Linked DNA regions of Homo sapiens. The protein of the gene in region 3 purifies or fractionates together with the protein of the main gene of each other region. This does not show direct contact. Each region holds a gene or a part of one and is shown on either strand. Other genes may lie near its edges.

Region 1 (7,029 bases), on a different chromosome or scaffold from region 3:
GGGCGACAGAGTGAGACTCCATCTTGGGAAGGGAAAAAAAAAAGAAACAATATAAAATATCAGAGTCTATCACCTATATACATAAGTTCCATCTACTGTTTCATGGAACTTACGTATAAAGGTATAATTTACGAATATTTTGTTATATGTGTAGGTGTATACACAATTTATTTACTAGGTCATGATGTAAAATACATTTCTTACTATAGGTCAAATCAAAAAACTCAAAAGCCATAGTACTTGACGATATACTTAGTGCAAAGTTTTAAAAATACCTCAGTTTTCCAGGCATTACATCATATTGTTGTCTTAGTTCACTCCCTCTGAATCCCACTTAAGTTGCTTAGGTTACTTAAGTATCTTTCTTTTAATTTATGGCCCCTTTTTGTTTAGGGTTTGCATTACAACCCTTACACTATTAAAAAACTTTCATTTTTTAAATCTCTGCTTCCTATTTCTTATATAACCAATTTATTAATAAAATGCCATAGTAAGAAAAATTTGTGTCATCTGTTGCTCTGACTAGGTCACTGCCCTTCACTGGCTCCCTACTGCTTAATGCGTCTAATTCAAAAATTGCTTATTCCCTGTTTTGATGTCTATCCACAGTTCAATTCATCTAAAAATAATCATCTCATTTATTTCTCTCTGTTCTTTCTTGTTCGTTATACTCCTGATTTTAAAGGTCACCCACCTACGATCATCAGAAACATCTCGTTTACATACTATGCTTTGTTTATTTCTTCTCACATTTGAACTATCAGCTCCTAGTGGTCGGTGACCAAATTTAAGCCACCAGTAAGCTGTCACTCATCATGTTTCAGCCACAAGGAAAAAATTGGTAAAATAAAAGGATAAAAATTCTCTTTATTTTCCAAGTATTCTCCTCTTATTATTTCATACCTTGAATGACAGAATAACTATTTCCATCATAGAAAGACTAAAACTTCCCTCCAATAGCTTTATAACCTTAAAAAGGTTTAGTGAGATGATTTAAATGTGGAAAAGAATACCCAAGAAAGGCCTTCAGAGAATATGATAATAGTTTCTTCTCTACACAAAGAAGTAAACAATGTTTAGCTTTTTATAATGTAAATATCACTTAGGTAATATTTTCTCTTAATAGCAAATCTCAATTTCTATTAAAACAACACTCTAAAATCTATACAGTATAACGATGTTTTACATTATAGCTTTTTTGAGGTGTAACAGACATAAAAGAAGTTGTACTTAAATGCAAAATTTGTTGAGTTTTAAGATATGTAAGCCCGTGAAGCCATCAGTCTCCCAAAAGTTTCCTCATACTCCATTGTAATCCATCCCTTCTTGCCCCTGCACCCTAGGCAGCTGATGATCTGCTTTCTGCCACTACAGATTAGTACACATTTACTAGGATTTTTATATAAATGTAATCACATGGTATTTTTGGTCTGAGTTTTTTCACTCTGTAATTATTTTGAGAATCATCCATTTTGCTGCATGTATCAATAGTTCATTCCTCTTTATAGCTGAGTTGTAGTCTGTTGTAATGCTGTATCACTATTTTTCGATTCATCTGTTAATTGATATTTGGGTTGTTTCCAGTTTGGGGCTATTAGAAATAAAGCTGGTATGAATATTTGTACATAATTCTGTGGACACATGAAGACATATTTATGTTGGGTAAACATCTGGGAGTAAAGTGGCTAGGAAATATAGATGTGTGCTTTATTTCTTTTTTTTGAGACAGGGTCTTGCTCTGTGGCCTAGGCTGGAATACAGTGGCATGATCATGGCTCACTGCAGCCTTGACCTCTCAGGCTTAAGTGATCCTACCACCTCAGCCTCTGGAGTAGCTGGGACTACAAGTATGTACCACCATGTTCAGCTACTTTTTTAAAAAATTTCTTATTTTTGTATAGAAGAAGTCTCCCTACATTGCCCAGGCTGGTCTCAAACTCCTAGGCTGAAGCAATCCTCCCGCCTCGGCCTTTTAATTTCTAAAGAAACTACCAAATTGTTTTCCAAAGTGATTGTATCATTTTACGTTCCCATCAGTAGTATATCTTCTGTAGTAATTGCTGGTTCAAATCTTTAGATCATTTTTAAAAAGTGGATGTCTTCTTATTAATGAATTATAAGCATTCTTCATATATTCTAGATATAAATCCTTTGTCAGATACATTTTTCACAAATATTTTCTGCTAGTCTGTAGCTTGTCTTTTCATTTTTGTAACCGTTTTTCTTCAAATTTATTTATTTAAATTGATAGGTAAAATTGCATATATTTATCATGTACAACATATTGTTTTAAAGTATATATACACTGTGGAATGGTTAATCTAGCTAATTTGCATTATCTCACAGTTATCGTTTTTTGTGGTGAGAACACTTAACATCCACTCTTTCAGCATTTTTCCAGAATGCACTATATCATCATTAACCATGTCACGATGTTGTATAATAGTGTAACCGTCTTTTGAAGAACAAAAGTTTTAAATTCAGTTAAAGAACAATTTATTGATTTTTTTTCTGAACTATAAGTTCATGCTTTTCTCTGTCCCATTTAAGAAATGTTTGCCAAAACAGGGTCACTACAATTTGTTTTCTTTTAGAAATTTTAAGTAGTTTTAGCTCTCACACTTAGGTCTATGATCCACTTCCAGTTAATTTTTGTAAATGGTATAATGTAACAGTTGAGGTTCATATTTTTACATATGACTATTAACTGTTTCAGCACCATTTGATGAAAAAGATTACCCCTTCTTCAACTAAATTAGCATCTCTGTCAAAAAATTAATATATCATATATATATGAATCTACTTCTGGAACTTCTTATTCGGCTCTACTGATCTATGTCTGCTTATGCCAAACAATAGTAAATTGACTATAGTATAATAAATCTTAAAATTTGTAGAATAGTAAATTCTCTCCAATATTGTGCCTCTTTGTCAAAGTTGATTTGGCTATTCCGTGGCCTTTGCACATAAACTTTAAAGTCAGCTTGTCAATATCTACCCTCCCAAAAAAGTCTGCCAATGTTTGATAGTTTGATTAGGGTTACAATAAATCTTTTTTTTTTTTTTTTTTTCTTGGAGACAGAGTCTTGCTCTTTTGCCCAGGCTGGAGTGCAGGTGGCACAATCATAGCTCACTGCAACCTTGAGCTCCTGGATTCAAGTGATCCTCTCACCTCTGCTTCCTGAGTAAGTAGAGCTAAAGGCGTGTGCCAGCATGCCTAGCTAGTTTTTTTTAATTATTATTTTATTTTTTGTAGAGATAGGGTCTTGCTACATTCTCAGGCTGGTCTTGAACTCCTTGCCTCATGTGATGCTCCTGCCTTGGCCTCCCAAAGTGCTGGGATTACAGATGTGAGCCATTGTACCTGGCCTTCAATGAATTTTTAGATAAATTTGAGAAGACATCTTATATTTAGTTTTACAATCCATGAACATGGTTATATCTCTTCATTTATTTAGTCTGTTTACAATATTCTCTCTCTTTTTTTTATCTATAGTGATGTCAACCTTTCTTTCCTGATATTGCTAATGTTTGTCTTTTTCCTGATCAGTATCTATTTTATTTTATCTTCTGAAGAATTAGCTTTTGGTTTCATTGGTTTTCTCTCTCTCTTTTTTTTTTAACGGGCAGGAGGCTTTCCTTAACTTTGATTTGCTCTTATTCTAGTTTCTTAAGGCAAAAAAATTAGGCTATTTTCTTTTTTTTTTTGAGACAAGGTCTTGCTTTGTTGCTCAGGCTGGAGTACAGTGGCATGAACACAGTTCACTGCAGCCTCAACTGGGCTCAAGTGATTCTCCCACCTCAGCCTCCTGAGTAGCTGGAATCACAGGAATGCACCATCATGTCTAGCTAAATTTTAAAATTTGTTGTAGAGATGGAGTCTCCCTGTGTTGCCCGGGCTGATCTTGAACTCCTGGGATCAAGCAATCCTCCACCTGGGCCTCCCAAAGTGTTGGGATCACAGGTGTGAGCCACTGTACCTGGCCCTAGGCTGTTCATTTAAAAATTTTCTTGATAGTACTATTTTAACTGCATCTCACACATTTTCAAAGACTGCAGAGAGAGAAGTTAACTTGTGGGAATAAACGCAAATAATTCCTGTCCATGGAAATGCAGACTGTGTCCTGTGGAATACAATTAATACCCTGTGAATACTGTTCAGTTTTGCATCCATCTTGTAAATTCATTTCAGTTTCTTTATTTGATTATCAATGTATAGTAATTTGAGTTCCCTTTTGAACTGGCTGAAATATCTTACCAGTTTCCTTATCTTGTTAATTAATGAGATAAAAGTTTTGAGATGTCTTCATTATCATATAAGTCATGATTTTACCTATCTAAAAACAGCATCTCTTCAGAGTATTTTATTAATATAACCCTAAAGAATGAATGGGCCGGGTGTGGTGGCTTATGCCTATAATCCCAGTACTTTTGGAGGCCCAGGTGGGAGAATCACTTGAGGTTAGGAGCCTGAGACCAGCCTGGGCAACAAAGTGAGACCCTTTCTTTATAAGAAATAAAAAGATAAACTAGCTGTGGTTGTGCATGCCTACAGTCTCAGCCACTTTGGAGGCTGAGGCAGGAGGATTCCCTTGAGCCCGGGAGGCCAAGCTGCAGTGAGCTATGATCACACCACTGCACTCTAGCCTGGGTAACAGAGTGAGTCCCTGTCTCAAACAAAACAAAACAAAACAAAACAAAACAAAACAAAACAAAACAAAAAGAATGGTGCCTAGCATTTTGAAAATACTAATATTTTCTTACCACTGTAAGTTTCTACAAAAATTAGTGAAAACTTTCCCACACTCTTAGAAGTTTATGGAAACTGGTCAAGCAAGAAGGTTTTCCCATATAATAGCATTTTAAATTGACAGCACAAAGATGTTCAATCCAACTCCCCAAATAAATCAGTAGGCTTTACTTTACATCAGTAATCTGATAAAACTCCTTCAGATTACTTTTTAAAGTATTTCTTTACACAAAAACTATTTCTAATAATAACAGTAATAATTTCCAACAAAGCTTATTAACATCATTTTAAAAATCAAAAGAAACACCTTAGAATTTCCGAAATTTTATAATTTAAGAGGCTGGTAACTCACATTTGAACAAATGTTAAGGAAAGTAGTCAAATAAACAGTACAGTCTTCATCACTAATGCAATGTAAGCTCTAAATTAGCCTTTTTACCTTTTATTTCCAATAAGCATAATGACCATGTTGGAATTGGAATGCTGGCGGGCATCTTCTAACCAGGTTGTCAAGTGGTTGAATGTATCTCTCCTAAACATAAATAATAATTTAATTACTATGTTCAAAGCATTTCCCTCAGTATACAACGAACAATATACATATTTTTAAAGAGAACCACTTTTAGCCATATCCACTTATGTAACGAGAAGTAGTTTTAAGCACCATATCTGGGTTTAGAGTTCACTGATTGTATTTCAGTTTATAAATTAAATGTAATCACACTTTAGAAAATTCCAATGAATAAATAATATGGCCGATTTCAATTTGAAGGTGCTAATTCAAATAAGAAAAACAATTCAGTTGCAGGTTTCTGTAGTAAATTTAAATTGGACTCAAGATGCAGTTTTAAAGGTGAGTAGCCGGGGCAGAAAGGCTAAGCTATTCTTTCATTACTGTTAACCACATCTATTTAGAAAAATTCTCTGTATCAACTACTGAATTGCAAAGTTTTCAAGTTCTCACCGTGTAATATCGTAAACTAGTAAAGCTCCTGCTGCACCTCTGTAATACGACCTTGTGATGGAACGAAAGGATTCTTGCCCTGCCTGTAACGAAAAAAAAGGTTGGAGAGTTTCCTTTAATACAATGTCCTCTACATTTTCATATTATTCATATACAGAATAAGAGCAGGTAGGGAAGGAGTGCATAAAGAGAGACAAGAAAACTTAACTTCACCAGTCTTAGGAAAAAGTTACAAAACACCGCTATTGCTCAAGATTGCTCAAGTCAACGAGACGCACATGTAGTGCACATGTAGTCGCTCCTGCAACCTCCCCAGCCCGCAAGACCTCTAAACCCTTTTTGGCAATCCCTGACAACCCAATTTACTGAATGGCTTCACAATACACGAATCATTATTAAAGGACAGAATGGACTCCTAGCAACTAAGCTCTGAAGACAAATTTGAAAGGAAGCAAATAACCCAGAGCCTCACATTTGAATTCAATAACCCACTCCCTGGGGCAGCTGTTGACACTAGAATAAATAAAACCCATTGTAAATAAATGATGAATGACATCTTTACGCCCACCATCTGCTGGTGTAAAGGTTGTTGGAAGGCCAAGGATGCAGATTTTATCAGTTATATCATAAACTGCAGTGAGCTTTCAACAGTCATCAAATGGAATTCTTTGAGCAATCATTTTATTATGAAAAGCAAAATGGTTCTGAATTTAATTTATATAAGTTTTTTTCTCCACACTTAATCAATTTTCTCTGTATTTGATATATAATGCTTGTCAAAAGGCAACAGGATGTAAAAGTCATCTTTATATCCACTTGTGAAACAGACACAAGAGATTATGCAAAGCTAGGTAATTTCTCTTTTACTCATGGTACTAATTTCTGTTTTTTTAAGAATTGCTGGGGAGGAATGTGACTGTTCTGTCTGAGTTTAAAACCGAGACAGCTCTTATAAGAAGTTATTTTTCATTTTTAATCCCTTCTTTTCCTACTTTTGCAAAAACATAAGCATTTTAATTAAGTAAACGTAAAGCCAATTTTAACGATTTTTATATTCAAAATCCCCTAACTTGAAAAATATTGATGTTTACACATTCTGAGTTCTGATCTTGCAATGTAAATATTTAGCCCTTCCCACCCTCAGAATGCGCATGGACGGCTCATATTCTACCCTGTTTAACACTCAACACTCTACAATACCTTGCTCTTGTTGACCCTTCCTCTATACTCCCTCCCTCCCCCATCCCCCACCCCCTGCATGTGACTAAGTGTGTGCTAGGCACTGGGTCCGGCATATAGCAGGCATTCAGAGAAA
Region 2 (7,029 bases), on a different chromosome or scaffold from region 3:
TCGCTCACTGCAACCTCCACCTCCCAGGTTCAAGCAATTCTCCTGCCTCAGCCTCCTGAGTAGCTGGGATTATAGGCGCCCACCACCACCCCAGTCATGCCCAGCTAATTTTTTTTTTTTTTTTTTGTATTTTTAGTACAGACAGGGTTTCACCATGTTGGCCAGGCCTGTCTTGGACTCCTGACATCAGGTGATCTGCCTGCCTCGACCTCCCAAAGTGCTGGTGTTACAGGCGTGAGCCACTGCACCTGGCCCAAATACATTTTGAACTCAAATATTATTAGGCCGGGCGCAGTGGCTCATGCCTGTAATGCCAGCACTATGGGAGGCCAAGGGGAGCGGATCACCTGAGGTTAGGAGTTCGAGACCAGCCTGGCCAACATGGTGAAGCCTCGTCTCTACTAAAAATATAAAAATTAGCTGTGTGTGGTGGTGCGTGCCTGTAGTCTAGCCTGGAGAGGCTGAGGCAGGAGAATCAGTTGAACCTGGGAGGCAGAGGTTGCAGTTAGCTGAGTTCATACCACTGCACTCCAGCCTGGACAACAGAGCAAGACTCTCAAAAAAAAAATTATATATATATATATGTATTTGGATCTAAGGAAGGAGAACAGATTAATCAGGTAAATATTTTCACTTGGTAGGAAAGCAAAGCCCTTTCTCCCATCTCCACCCAAAGGTAAATAATTTTTTTTCTTCTCTGGAAAATAACAAAATATATCAGGCTGAAGTTAATATTATCAGTACTGTTATCTGTAAGTCCTACATCCTACATCTCCATAGATTTATCTTTTTTTTTTTTTGCAAATAAGAAAAAATATTTTAAAAAATAGAAATAAGGTAAGTACCTGCTCCATTCCGTTTGATTTTCTGGGTTTTCACATGAGCCACATAAACGTGATATCACCTGTGATTCTAAAGGTCCAAGTGTTCAGAAATAGATTATGATTACGGCTCACATGTTTAACAAAAATTTGAAAGGCAGATTTTGGAAAGGTAAAGATCAAATAATCTCCTTGTGAGCTTCCAAAATACTATTTCCAGACCATCACTTGAGAAACTGAGTATTATTTTGGTCACAGATCATATAAGATCTTTTGTAGTTTAAAATTAAGTTTTTTCTTTTTTTTTAATCTTTGTGTTACCCTGACATCTTCTGGCCAAAAGAGAGAGCTGCACATCAACAGTTGAACATTCTCAAGCTCATTCTCACAAGAGGCAGGGAGCAATAAATGCTTCCCCTTCAAGAGCAGTCAGGATCACCCAACTCTATAAACTGCTTCACGCTGATATAGCATAGCCCTTCAGCTTCCACTGAGAATTTCACTGAGTAGATGAACTTGCAGCATGCCCTTTAAGAAAATGCACTAACAGGCCGGGCGCGGTGGCTCATGCCTGTAATCCCAGCACTTTGGGAGGCCGAGGCCGGCGGATCACAAGGTCAGGAGATCGAGACCATCCTGGCTAACACGGTGAAACCCCGTCTCTACTAAAAATACAAAAAATTAGCCAGGCGTGGTGGCGGGCGAATGCAGTCCCAGCTACTCGGGAGGCTGAGGCAGGAGAATGGCCTGAACCCGGGAGGCGGAGCTTGCAGTGAGCCGAGATAGCGCCACTGCACTCCAGCCTGGGTGACAGAGCGAGACTCCATCTCAAAAAAAAAAAAAAAAAGAAAAAAGAAAATGCACTAACAGAACAGAAGAAAAATAAAAGTTAAATTCTGTGGAGCCTTTTTTTTTTTTTTTTGGAGAAAAAAATCTCTAATTTGATCCAATTTTTTTTTCTTTTTTTATAGAGGGGGGTGTCACTCTTTCACCTAGGCTGGAGTGTGGTGCATAATCATAGCTCACTGCAGCCTCAAACTCCTGGGCTCAAGTGGATCCTCCCACCTCAGCCTCCCAAGTAGCTAGGACTACAGGCACAGGCTACCACACATGACTAATTTATTTATTTTATTTTATTTTACTTATTTATTTATTTATTTTGAAATAGAGATTTATTTATTTATTTAGAGATCGAGTCTCACTCTGTCACCCAGGTTGGAGTGGCACGATCTCAGCTTACTGCAATCTTGATCTCCCGGGTTCAAGCGATTCTCAGCCTCCTGAGTAGCTGGAATTACAGCCACCTGCCATCACACCCAGCTAATTTTTGTATTTTTAGTAGAGATGGGGTTTCATCATGTTGACCAGGCTGGTCTCAAACTCCTGACCTCAAGTGATCCTCCCGCCTCAGCCTACCAAAGTGCTGAGATGCTAGCATTACAGGCATGAGCCACCGTGCCCGGCCTTAATTTTTTTTTTAGACAGAGTTTCGCTCTTGTCACCCAGGCTGCAGTGCAATGGTATGATTGCAGCTCACTGCAACCTCTGCCTCCCGGATTCAAGCAATTCTCCTGCCTCAGCCTCCCGAGTAGCTGGGATTACAGTTGCCCGCCACCACGTTCAGCTAATTTTTGTATTTTTAGTAGAGACAGGGTTTCACCATGTTGGCCAGGCTGGTCTCGAACTCCTGACCTCAGGGAATCTACCCGCCTCGGCCTCCCAAAGTGCTGGGATTATAGGCGTGAGCCACCACGCCCAGGAATTTCTTTTTTTTTTTAAAACTTAACTTGGTGCTCATTTGTTACAGCACTAAATTTCTCATTTTTGGTAGAGATGGGGGAACTCACTATGTTGCCCAGGCTGGTCTCGAACTCCTGGCCTCAAGCAATCCTCCTACCTTGGCCTCCCAAAGCTCTGTGATTATAGGCATGAGCCACCATGCCCAGCCTGGATTCAAAAAAAATTTTTTTTTCTTTTTCCTTCTTTTTCTTTTTCTCGCTGCCTCCTCCAAGTAGGAAGACTACATATGGATTCAAGTTTTTTTTTCTTTTGAGGCAGTGTTCCGCTCTTGTTGCCCAGGCTGGAGTGCAGCGGCATGACTTCGGCTCACTGTAACCTCTGCCTCCCAGGTTCAAGCGATTCTCCTGCCTCAGCCTCCCAAGTAGCTGGGACTACAGGCGCGTGCCACCACACCCGGCTAATTTTCGTTTGTATTTTTAGTAGAGATGAGGTTTCACCATGTTGGCCAGGCTGGTCTCGAACTCCTGACGTCAGGTGATCCTTCCGCTTCGGCCTCCCAAAGTGCTGGGATTACAGGCATGAGCCACCGAGCCTGGCCTGGATTCAAAAATTTTTAAGATTTATTCTGGACTCAAATTGAAAAACAGGATCTTTTTAAAAGGTAGAAACTAAGTTATTTACTACAACTTTTTTTCTTTCTTTTTTTTTTTTTTTTTTTTGAGATGGGGTCTCACTCTGTCACCCAGGCTGGAGTCTGGAGTGCAGTGGCATGATCTCGGCTCAAGCAATTCTCCCACCTCAGCTTCCAGAGTAGCTGGGACCACAGGGGCACACCACCACACTTGGCTAATTTTTGTGTTTTTAGTAGAGAGGGGTTTCTCCATGTTGCCCAGGCTGGTCTCAAACTCCTGACCTCAAGGGATCTGCCCACCTCAGCCTCCCAAAGTGCTGGGATTACAGGCATGAGCTACTGTGCCCGGCCATTTACTATAACTTAATGCCAAATTTACCTAAAGAAGTTCAATTTAATTCCATTAAATCTTTAAAATGTCTGCAACGATAAAGAAAAGCAAGTACTCATGCATTCTAAGTCTCATGTGGACCTTCTGATCTTGCCTTCATAAATTAGGACCTGTGTGTTTTCCAAGTTTTCTGTTTGATATAATGCATCTCACTGCCTAACAGTCCTCTATCCTAGGAACTAACCATTACTGTCTCCTACTGCAAGAAAAGCACTGAGCTTCATTTTTAAAAAGTTCCCACCAGGACTGGCTCACACCTGTAATCCTAGAGCTTTGGGAGCCTGAGGCAGGAGGGTTGTTTGAGGCCAGGAGTTCCAGTGACCAACCTGGGCAACATGGTGAGAACCTGCTTCTACATAAAATGTTTAAAAAAATTAGCCGGGTGTGGTGGCATGCACCTGTAGTCTCAGCTACTCAGGAGGCTGAGGTGGGAGGATTGCTTAAGCCCAGGAATTCCAGGCTACAGTGAGCCATGAAGGCCCCACTGCCTTTCAGTCTTGGGTGACAGAGCAAGGCCCTGCCTCAGAGAAAATAAAATAAAATTTAAAAATTCCCTCTCCCTATCCTCAGAAATGTCAAATAGCAACAGCATTTCTATCTTTATGAGATGAGTAAACCACCTGGTAACAAAAGAGGGTATAATTCCACACTTCACACATGCTATGAGGACACCATGTTCATAACAAATAACAGATTTCAAATGAAAATTAAGGCTATATATTTCATAATAAAAGTTCTTTTTTTTTTTTTTTTGAGATGGAGTCTCGCTGTGTTGCCAGGCTGGAGTGCAGTGGCACAGTCTCAGCTCACTGCAACCTCTGACTCCCTGGTTCAAGCAATTCTCCTGCCTCAGCCTCCTGAGTAGCTGGGATTACAGGCATGCACCACCACGCCCAGCTAATTTTTGTATTTTTAGTAGAGACGGGGTTTCACCATGTTGGCCAGGATGGTCTCGATCTCCTGACCTCGTGATCTGCCCACCTCAGCATTCCAAAGTGCTGGGATTATAGGCGTGAGCCACCGCACCCGGCCAAGAAAAGCTTTAAGACATTAAGGTGATCCAAATTTTAGTGGTCAGAACACACATCAACCTTACAAAAATGAGAGAATATATTTGATTCTAAAATCAAACTTCATATATTCTTTCTGCTGTCATTTTTGTCCCTCAAGCACCCAAGTAGCTGAGAGAAAATTGGACATACCAGAGGACTGTATCATCAACGCAAGTCTCTTGAGATGCCTTGTTGATCGGTAGATCAAGTTATAGCCTCGGTTTCTGATTTTGCTGTGGTGATACTGGATGTAGCATTCAAGGAGTAAATGGAGAATCCACAAAATAACTTTCCCAAGGATTATAACCGTCTGAACTTTCAATGGGTTTGTGTAATTTCCTGGGCACTTGTCCTCATTTGGATTAGGATAAGAACAAAGCACACCTGTTAAAAATGCTAAAACAACAAACACGAGCTGGGGGAAAGGAGAGCAGAAAGATTAATATTCAATATTTGTAATTAGGAAGCAATAACTACCATCCCAGCATACATTCTTTTTTTTTTTTTTTTTTTTTCTGAGACAGAGTCTCACTCTGTCGCCCAGGCTGGAGTGCAGTGGCGCAATCTCGGCTTACTGCAAGCTCCACCTCCCGGGTTCACGCCATTCTCCTGCCTCAGCCTCCCGAGTAGCTGGGACTACAGGCACCCGCCACCACGCCTGGCTAACTTTTTGCATTTTTAGTAGAGACGGGGTTTCACCATGTTAGCCAGGATGATATCGATCTCCTGACCTCATGATCCACCCACCTCAGCCTCCCAAAGTGCTGGAATTACAGGTGTGAGCCACCGCACCCGGCTTCCCAGCATACATTCTTATACCTACAGCTTCCCCTGTCCTATTTTTATAAATGAGTTTTTAAATGTATTTTCGTTTTGTTTTGTTTAAATGTATTTTTGTTTTCTGTGTGAGATACGGTCTTGCCCTGTTGCCCAGGCTGGAGTGCAGTGGTGCCATCTCTGCTCACTGCAGCCTCAACCTCCTGGGCTCAAGCGATCCTCCTACCTCAGTCTCTGGAGTAGCTGGAACTACAGGCCTGTGCCACCATGCCTGGCCAATTTTAAGAAGTTTTTATAGAGACAGGTTCTTGCTATGGCACCCAGGCTGGTACAGAGTATGTTACACAAAAAGTAAAAGGAAAGAAGAAAAAGAGGTCACCATCTGGAAACCACAAGGCCACCCCTGCACATGGTGGTACCAAGAAGAAAGCGCTTCAGCTGGGATCTGGGGATCAGGAAGCCATGGTGGAGCCATACCACAGCTACTAGTTCCCTCAAGGAAAGGGGATACCACCTCTCTCCCCAGTGATTCAGTTCTGAACTCAAGTCTCCCACAGTGCACTTCACTGGAGAGGAATCCCAGCTGCAGGGGAAGCCAGGAAATGTGCTGAGGGATACGGTCCCTGCAGACAGGCAAACCTATCAGTAGGAGGCTGAGCAGAGGCTGAGCAAGTCAATCAACTCCATTCACAGTCCTCGTAAATACTCAAGGAGTGGTGAGAATGAGCCCTCTTGATTTTTCACATTGCAGCAGAGAACAACTATAACCCCTAGTGCTTCCAACTGCAATCGTCGAAAGGGAGGAACTGATTAAACAGACTGGCAGTGGAGTCACCACCAGTGAGGCCTGCGATAAGACCTTTTGCACATGTGTTTTTATAAACTCCAGATAGTTGTAATTTTGTCATCATACAAAAATTGTACATATTATTCCACTGCAACTTGATTTGTCTGCTAAACATTATTCCCTAGGTATAAGTAAATTGATAAATTCCTGTGTCAACATATGTAGACTTTTCTGCATCTTTTTTGTAACTGAAAAAGTAATACAAGCACATGGTTAAAAAATCAAGTAGTATTCAAAAGTAAACAGTAAATTATATTAGTGTCTCTTCCACCAAGACCCTCAGTCCTCATTTCAGAGGCAACTAGGTCTGTGAATGCTTCTAGAAATATTCTATTATATACAGGAAAACAGGTCCACAACAGCCCTCTCAACTCCCTTTTAAAAACTGCAGATAGGAACATTCTGTACACAAGGTTGAAAACTTGATTTTTTTTCACTCGACAATGTAATCATGAAGGCTATTCTATGTTAATATACTGTATACCTATCCACCCCATTCTTAACAGTTGCATAGCATTTCCTTATATGAATGGGACACACAGTGTCTTCTGGATGCCAAGTAGCCAGGTAGTTTGTAGTCTCTTGATATGACAGACAACATGGCTATTATCAACAATATCTTTACATGTGTGCAAATATATCCACAATGAATTATTTGAAGATATAAGTAAAAGTGTACGTACTTTTTTTTTTTTTTTTTTGCCCATGACACAGCACTCAGGATGTCCTAAGAACATGTGCCCTACATTTTAAATGTTGATAGATACAGC
Region 3 (7,029 bases):
CATGGCATTTAAGAAGGCAGGCATGAAAGCATACAGTAGTCCCTCTTATCCATGGTTTTGCTTTCCAGTTTCAGTTACCTATGATCAACCTCTGAAATAATAATGACTCTAAAGCAGAAGAGTACTGTGCCTAATTTATAAATTAAGCTTTATCATAGGTATGTATGTATTGGGAAAAACATAGTGTACATAGGGTTAGGTTCTATCTGTGATGTCAGGCATCCACTGGGGTTCTTGGAACGTATCCCCCAAGGATAAGGAGGGACTACTTACTTTTATTTTTCTACTCTTTCCCCCCCAAGTCAGATTAACTCATAATTATCCAGATCTTAAGAACAATGTGACTTTAGGCAAGTGACTTAAGCTGACTTTGCCTTGTTTTTCTCATCTGAGAAATGAAGATAATGCTACTCATTTCATTGGGTTGTTATAAGGATTAAACTATGCTGATGAATGTTAAGTGCTTAGTATTACGTGTTTGTTAAATTTGTTAAAATAAGTAGAATGATATACTACTAAGTAGTATTTTCTAAACATCTGTTTCCCAAACCTGTAGTCTTAATTAAGCAGCTTCTTGACAGCTCAGACATAAATTCTCAGGTATCTAGTGCCCAGTTGCCAACTGAGTGGTTATAGTTGTTCAACACAAGCTTTGAAAAGTGATGATTAAGATTGGACACTAGGAAAGAAGTAGAAAATACTTCCAGGTCCATAAAGTAATTATTGCACAAAATTCATGCATCAAAGTTAAGCACTTTATTGGCAGAAGAGTTCCAGCATTTTCCTCCTTCATGGCCTATGTTTTTTTTGAGACATGCTCTCACTCTATTGTCTAGGCTGGAGTACAGTGGCACAATCTTGTCTTAAAGTCATATCGTTCTTAAGATCTCAACCTCCACCTCCCAGGCTCAAGCAATCCTCCCACCTCAGCCTCCCTAGTAGCTGGGACTACAGGTGCATATAACCATGCCTGGCTAATTTTTGTATTTGTAGAGAGAAGGTTTTGCCGTGTCACCCAGGCTAGTCTTGAACTCCTGGGCCGCAGCAACCTGCCTGTCTCAGCCTCCCAAAGTGCTGGAATTACAAGCTTGAGCCACTATGCCTGGCCCTAATAACTCTTAGTTTGTTCAACAAATATTTATTGAATATCTTGCTCTACTCAAGAATTTTGGAGTAAAAACTCAAGGACTTGATTAGCTAATTTTCGGTTTTTGCATGTTAGCAGTAGCAGCTGAGTTACAGGAAAGTTGTTAGGGTTGGCCAAGGTAAAGAAAAGAGATAAATGAACCCCTGAGAAAGCTCGGGGGTACCCCAGTATACTGCAGCCCCCTACATTATTTTATTATGAAGTGCTGTAGTTGATGTTCATAATCATAAAACTTTACCTCCAATAGGGAGGGCCCTTGAGTGTTATCTAATTTAGTTTTCTTGTTTTGCAATAGATAAACTGACCCAGAAACATTGAGAACACATTAAATCATGTTCTATAGGTTGTTTGTGGGAAGTTAGCCAAGTGTATATTGCCTTTTAGAAAGCTTTCCATGCAAGCTAGTTGTAAAGTTTGGTACCTAAAAATTTTAGCTACTATTTTTCCTGCCTCTTCATTATGTAAAACACTTAATGATATGAAATAAATGAGCATTATCTCACGTAGATCTCTCCTCAGAGATTAAAGCCTATCACAATAAATATAATTACAATGAAAATATTTAAGAAAAATATAATCACGATTTAGCCATGTGACCTTGGGACTCTACTACCTGTTCTATGAAATGATAATGATAATTGTCCCTCCCTGTATGATGACTAGTTTTTTAAAAATTTTGGTAAAATACATAAAACACAAAGTATCATCTTAGTCATTTTTAAGTGTGCAATTCAGTAGTGTTAAGTACATTCACATTGTGTAACCATCACCACTGTCCACTTCTAGAAATTTGTTATCTTTTCAAACTGAAACTCCATACCCATTAAGCAAATTAATATCTTCTGTCTTTATGAATTTGACTATTTTAGGTACCTCATAAAGTGAAATACAGTGTTTGTGTGTGTGTGTGTGTGTGTGTGTGTGTGTGTGTGTGAGTGTGTGAGACTTCTGGCTCATTTCATTTAGCAAAATGTCTTCATTTCTTTTGAGTGTATATTCAGAAGTTGAATTGCTGGATCATATGATAATTCTATTTTTAGGTTTTTCAGGAACTGCTATACCATTTTTCATAGCAGCTATACCATTTTGCCTTCCTGCCAGCAGTATACAAGAGTTCCTATTTCTCTGCATTCTTTCCAGTGCTTTCTGTTTTTTTTCTTTTCCTCTTAATAGTAGCCATCCTACTGGATGTTAGGTGGTATCTCTTTGTGGGTTTGATTTGCATTTCCCTAATGATTAGTGAGTCGAACGTCTTTTCATGAGTTCATTGGCCATTTATCTTTTATCATGGCTTACTTTTGATATAACTAGTTTAGATAGAATGACTAGATTTTCACATATAATCACATATGTGAAAGTCCTGAGAATTATAATGTCTTATATAAGTGAAAGTAGTGACTATGGCTGTGTTAACATTTTTTCTGAAGTTAATAAAACTCCACTGAACAGTTAAAAGAGGCACAATTCGAGTTCTGTATAGGAAGTTATTTGTACAGTTGGAATTCGTTGTGCTCAAGATTTAAGACAATTTTGGAATACATGTGTATGTGGCTAGCATAAGGCCATAGCAGACAATACTCATGACATTGAGATAAGTAACCAAAAAGAGAACAAAATTGATTACATAAAAGGAAAAACTTCTGTATGACAAAATATTTTATAAGCCTTATTAAAAGACAGACTTGGAAATGCTGTTTAGCAGTGAATTTTAATAGTTACTGTCAGAATAATTTAAATGCTGAAAGTTTTATTTCTGATCTCATCTACTTTGTGGAAATGTACATCTAGGTGAACACATTTAAAAATTTTCGTATGTATTTGTCATATAAAATTCTTTTAGCATAAGGAAATATGTAAAAAATTACATTAGTTTCAAAAATATCTTTTTTAGATGGAAGAATATATCTTTGTTGGGACAAAATAATGCATCTCTTCAAGAATTATGGCCATAAGGAACATGTTCTTAAAGTAGATTGTTACCAATGGTAAAAAAATATTTACTAAAATGGTTACAAATGCAATGTTGATATTAGAAGTTTATGCAGTGTCATTATAAGTGAGTAGCCTAACTTCAAATGTTTTATTTTGTTCAGTCAGGTCAATTCAGTGAAGATATGATACCCACAGTGGGCTTCAACATGAGGAAGGTAACTAAAGGTAACGTCACAATAAAGGTAAGTTATTTCTTGCCGTACGCAATTTAAATTGTTAGCACAGACCCCTAGAAATTTTTCTGTTAAATTTCTGTGTTTTTACTGAAAATTTGCAGTTTTTCAGTAATGAATGTGCATGTTTCAAAAGAATAGGTTTTTTTGTTGTTGTTTTTTTGTTTTTTTTTTGGAAACAGAGTTTTGCTCTTTCACCCAGGCTGGAGTGCAGTGTCGCGATCTCCACTCACTGCAACCTCTACCTCCCGGTTCAAGTGATTCTCCTGCCTCAGCCTCCAAAATAGCTAAGATGACAGGCTTGTGCCACCACACCCAGCTAATTTTTTGTACTTTTAGTAGAGACAGGGTTTCACCATGTTGGTTAGGCTCGTCTCAACTCCTAACCTCAAATGATCTGCCTGCTACGGCCTCCCCAAAGTGCTGGGATTCCAGGCGTGAGCCACCACGCCTGGCCAAGAATAGATTTTTAATCTATTTTGTTTTTCAAAAATCAAATCTATGGCCTGAGCCTTAATGTCCATTTTGCCCAATTATTGTGGTTTACAGAAGCTGTTCACTTTCTCTGTGGCTCATCTAATGAAGTTCCAGATTTAGTCAAGTGCAGGTTTCTTTATGCTTGTTACCAGTGCTTTAGTTAAACCGGAAGCCTCTTGAAGATTAATACTGTGACTTGAGACTTTAATGTAGCCCAGTGTCTAGTGTGATGCCCTACGGAGTAGACACAATAATAAAATGATTATGGATGTGGCTTTCATGTGCATAAAATAATTTTATTTTATTTTATTTTTTTGAGATGGAGTTTCACTCTTGTTGCCCAGGCTTGGAGTGCAATGGTGTGATCTCGGCTCACTGCAACCTCCGACTCCCAGGTTCAAGTGGTTCTCCTGCCTCAGCCTCCCGAGTATATTACAGGCACCTGCCACCACACCTGGCTAATTTTTTGTATTTTTAGTAGAGATGAGGTTTCACTGTGTTGGCCAGGCTGGTCTCGAACTCCTGACCCCAAGTGATCCACCCGCCTCGGCCTCCCAAAGTGCTGGGATTATAGGTGTGAGCCACCATGCCTGACCAAAATAATTTTATACAAGAAAAACACCTATGTGGAAATGTTGGCTACTTATTTACAGGATAATTTCAAAAGGTTAGGCATTAATGTAGAACAAATCAGACGATTAAGACTTAATAGATTCTGAATTGTTGTTTTCTGTCTTGGCATTCAAATCTGGATGGTGCATGGTCCTGTAGCTTTTAAATTGTTATCATAAAGACATATGTTTTCAATAATAGAAGTATATTAGTTAACAGGCAAACTATTGCACATAAACCAAATCTTTGCTTAAGCAAAATTTTAGATGTATTGTAAATGTATTAAATACGGACTTCAAGTTTAGAAGTGGCCCCAAGAATTCCCATATTAAGAGCTTGTTTGAGGTCAAGTCTTTCAGGAGCACTTTGCCTCTAACATTGTAGAAATAAATATATCTTCCCGATCTTTCTTTTTTTCTGTTACTTCCTCTTGCAATCATTTAATTAAAATATCTTTATTAAGAATTGCCTTGTTTTGATTTAAAGATCTGGGACATAGGAGGACAACCCCGATTTCGAAGCATGTGGGAGCGGTATTGCAGAGGAGTCAATGCTATTGTGTAAGTGGTTTTTTTTTGTTTGTTTGCTTTTAAATCAATGTAGGCATCAAAGAAGAAAGTTTATTTTAGTATTTCCAGAGGCTCAATTTTTATCTCAGGCAGTGAAAATCTTTCTTAGCTAATATCCTAGTGTAATTCCCAACATGGGATTTAAAAAAAATTAATCATAGAATAAGATCTTTATGTTTTTTGTTTATGGAGCTAAGAGCTAAGGGGTGTACATGTTTTACTATCATGTATTAGTCTCTAAAAACAGTCTAGTTAAAAAGTATTAAAGGGTGCTGAGCCTTTTCTTATGACATAGTTTATTTTGGTTAATAATTTCAATAATGTAAATCTTACAAAAATTAAAAATCAATAATACTAGTTGTCATCATCAAGGCATACAGAGAAGGTATGTTGAGATCACTTCATTTTTTTAAGTTACATGATAGATGCTGCAGATCGTGAAAAGATAGAAGCTTCCCGAAATGAGCTACATAATCTTCTAGATAAACCACAGTTACAAGGAATTCCAGTAAGTATGGAATACTTGTTATTTTACATTGTAATTATATAATGATATTAATTATGGTAATTATGCAGTGATATTAATTATGTTTGAAATCAGTAACATGTCTTCATTTTTAAAATCTGGAAAACTTGCTTACCATGTATCTGCCATATACTGGGCATTGTGCTAAATATGAATCTCATAACCACGTATCTACTAAACTACTATGCAGCAGGAGCAGTGCGTAGGCCCAGGGATATAGTGATGAATGGAAATCAGTAGAAACATACTCCTTGCCATCATGGACCTTATGGTTTAGTGGGAAAGGTAGATACTCTGAAAACACTTGAATAATGCAGCTTTAAGTGCTAGGAAGAAAGGTGCAAGGGGATATGAGAGTTGTAATTTAGAGGGGAGATGTGATCTAGTTTGAGGGAAGAAGGAGGGATTCACGAGGAAGTAATGGTTGAGCTGAGATCCAAGGGATACATACAAATGTGAGGTATATGACAGTTGGAGGGGAAGAGAGTTCCAGGCAAAGGCCTTTGGGTGGGAGGAAGTGGGAAACTGAGAAGAGGCCAGTCTCTAGAATACATTTAGGAATTTGCATTTGGATTAGGAATGCTCAACCAGTAAGTATATAATGCAAATCCAAAAAATTTCCAAAATTCGAAACACTTCTGGTCCCAGGTATTTTGGATAAGGGATAGTAAACCTGTACTAAGAATAGCAGAATGCCGCCGGGCGCGGTGGCTCATGCCTGTAATCCCAGCACTTTGGGAGGCCGAGATGGGCGGATCACCAGGTCAGGAGATCGAGACCATCCTGGCTAACGCGGTGAAACCCCGTCTCTACTACAAAAAATCAGCTGGGCGTGGTGGTGGGCGCCTGTAGTCCCAGCTACGGCAGGAGAATGGCGTGAACCCGGGAGGCAGAGCTTGCAGTGAGCCCAGTGGCTGCTGCACTCCAGCCTGGGTGACAGAGCGAGACTCTGTCTCAAACAAACAAACAAACAAACAAACAAACAAAAAGAATAGCAGAATGTGTATCATAGACTCAGACTATTTTACATAGCAGTTGGCAGCCACATACTGAATTAAGAGCACCTGCATGGTGGGAGTTGAGTGAATACAAGTGTGAGCAATGAAATGAATGAGACAAGCCACCAGTTACACAAATAGGCCTTAACATTGTGGAATGTGTTAACATCTTAACTTTGTGTCTTCACATATCAAGATGATAAACTTCTGTGACTTTTTCTTGCATAAACGTGTGCTCTTAATATCTTTTCTTTTTAAAGGTGCTAGTGCTTGGAAACAAGAGAGATCTTCCTAATGCCTTGGATGAGAAACAGCTAATTGAAAAAATGTATGTCTTGAATATGCTATTTTAATAATTTGCTTCTAAATTACCATATTTTGCCCACTTGTTATGTTATTCCTAATGATCATAGCCATTTTTTTTAGGTAGATAAAAGTTGGCCTATCAGAGAAGTGAATCCTAACATTTTAGGATTGCTACGATGATTTCTTCAGTATAGTAATAAAACTAATGAGTAAAATTGAACAAAGTGAT

What was found. Proteins that work in one complex are often made in the same cells at the same time.
Region 1: the proteins of ARL8B (region 3) and RAB2A fractionate together in Homo sapiens (co-fractionation; 2 studies listed by BioGRID). This does not show direct contact.
Region 2: the proteins of ARL8B (region 3) and TMEM192 purify together in Homo sapiens (affinity purification with mass spectrometry; 2 studies listed by BioGRID and IntAct, with this or other methods). This does not show direct contact.

Annotation. Positions count from the first base shown.
Region 1 is NC_000008.11:60,582,976-60,590,004, reverse strand, and holds part of RAB2A (ras-related protein Rab-2A), read right to left. Parts: intron 5,798-7,029; coding exon 5,715-5,797; intron 5,283-5,714; coding exon 5,190-5,282; intron 1-5,189.
Region 2 is NC_000004.12:165,095,843-165,102,871, forward strand, and holds part of TMEM192 (transmembrane protein 192), read right to left. Parts: intron 5,051-7,029; coding exon 4,786-5,050; intron 1-4,785.
Region 3 is NC_000003.12:5,167,263-5,174,291, forward strand, and holds part of ARL8B (ADP-ribosylation factor-like protein 8B), read left to right. Parts: intron 1-3,240; coding exon 3,241-3,321; intron 3,322-4,887; coding exon 4,888-4,961; intron 4,962-5,384; coding exon 5,385-5,478; intron 5,479-6,754; coding exon 6,755-6,822; intron 6,823-7,029. UniProt on the Homo sapiens protein: Small GTPase which cycles between active GTP-bound and inactive GDP-bound states.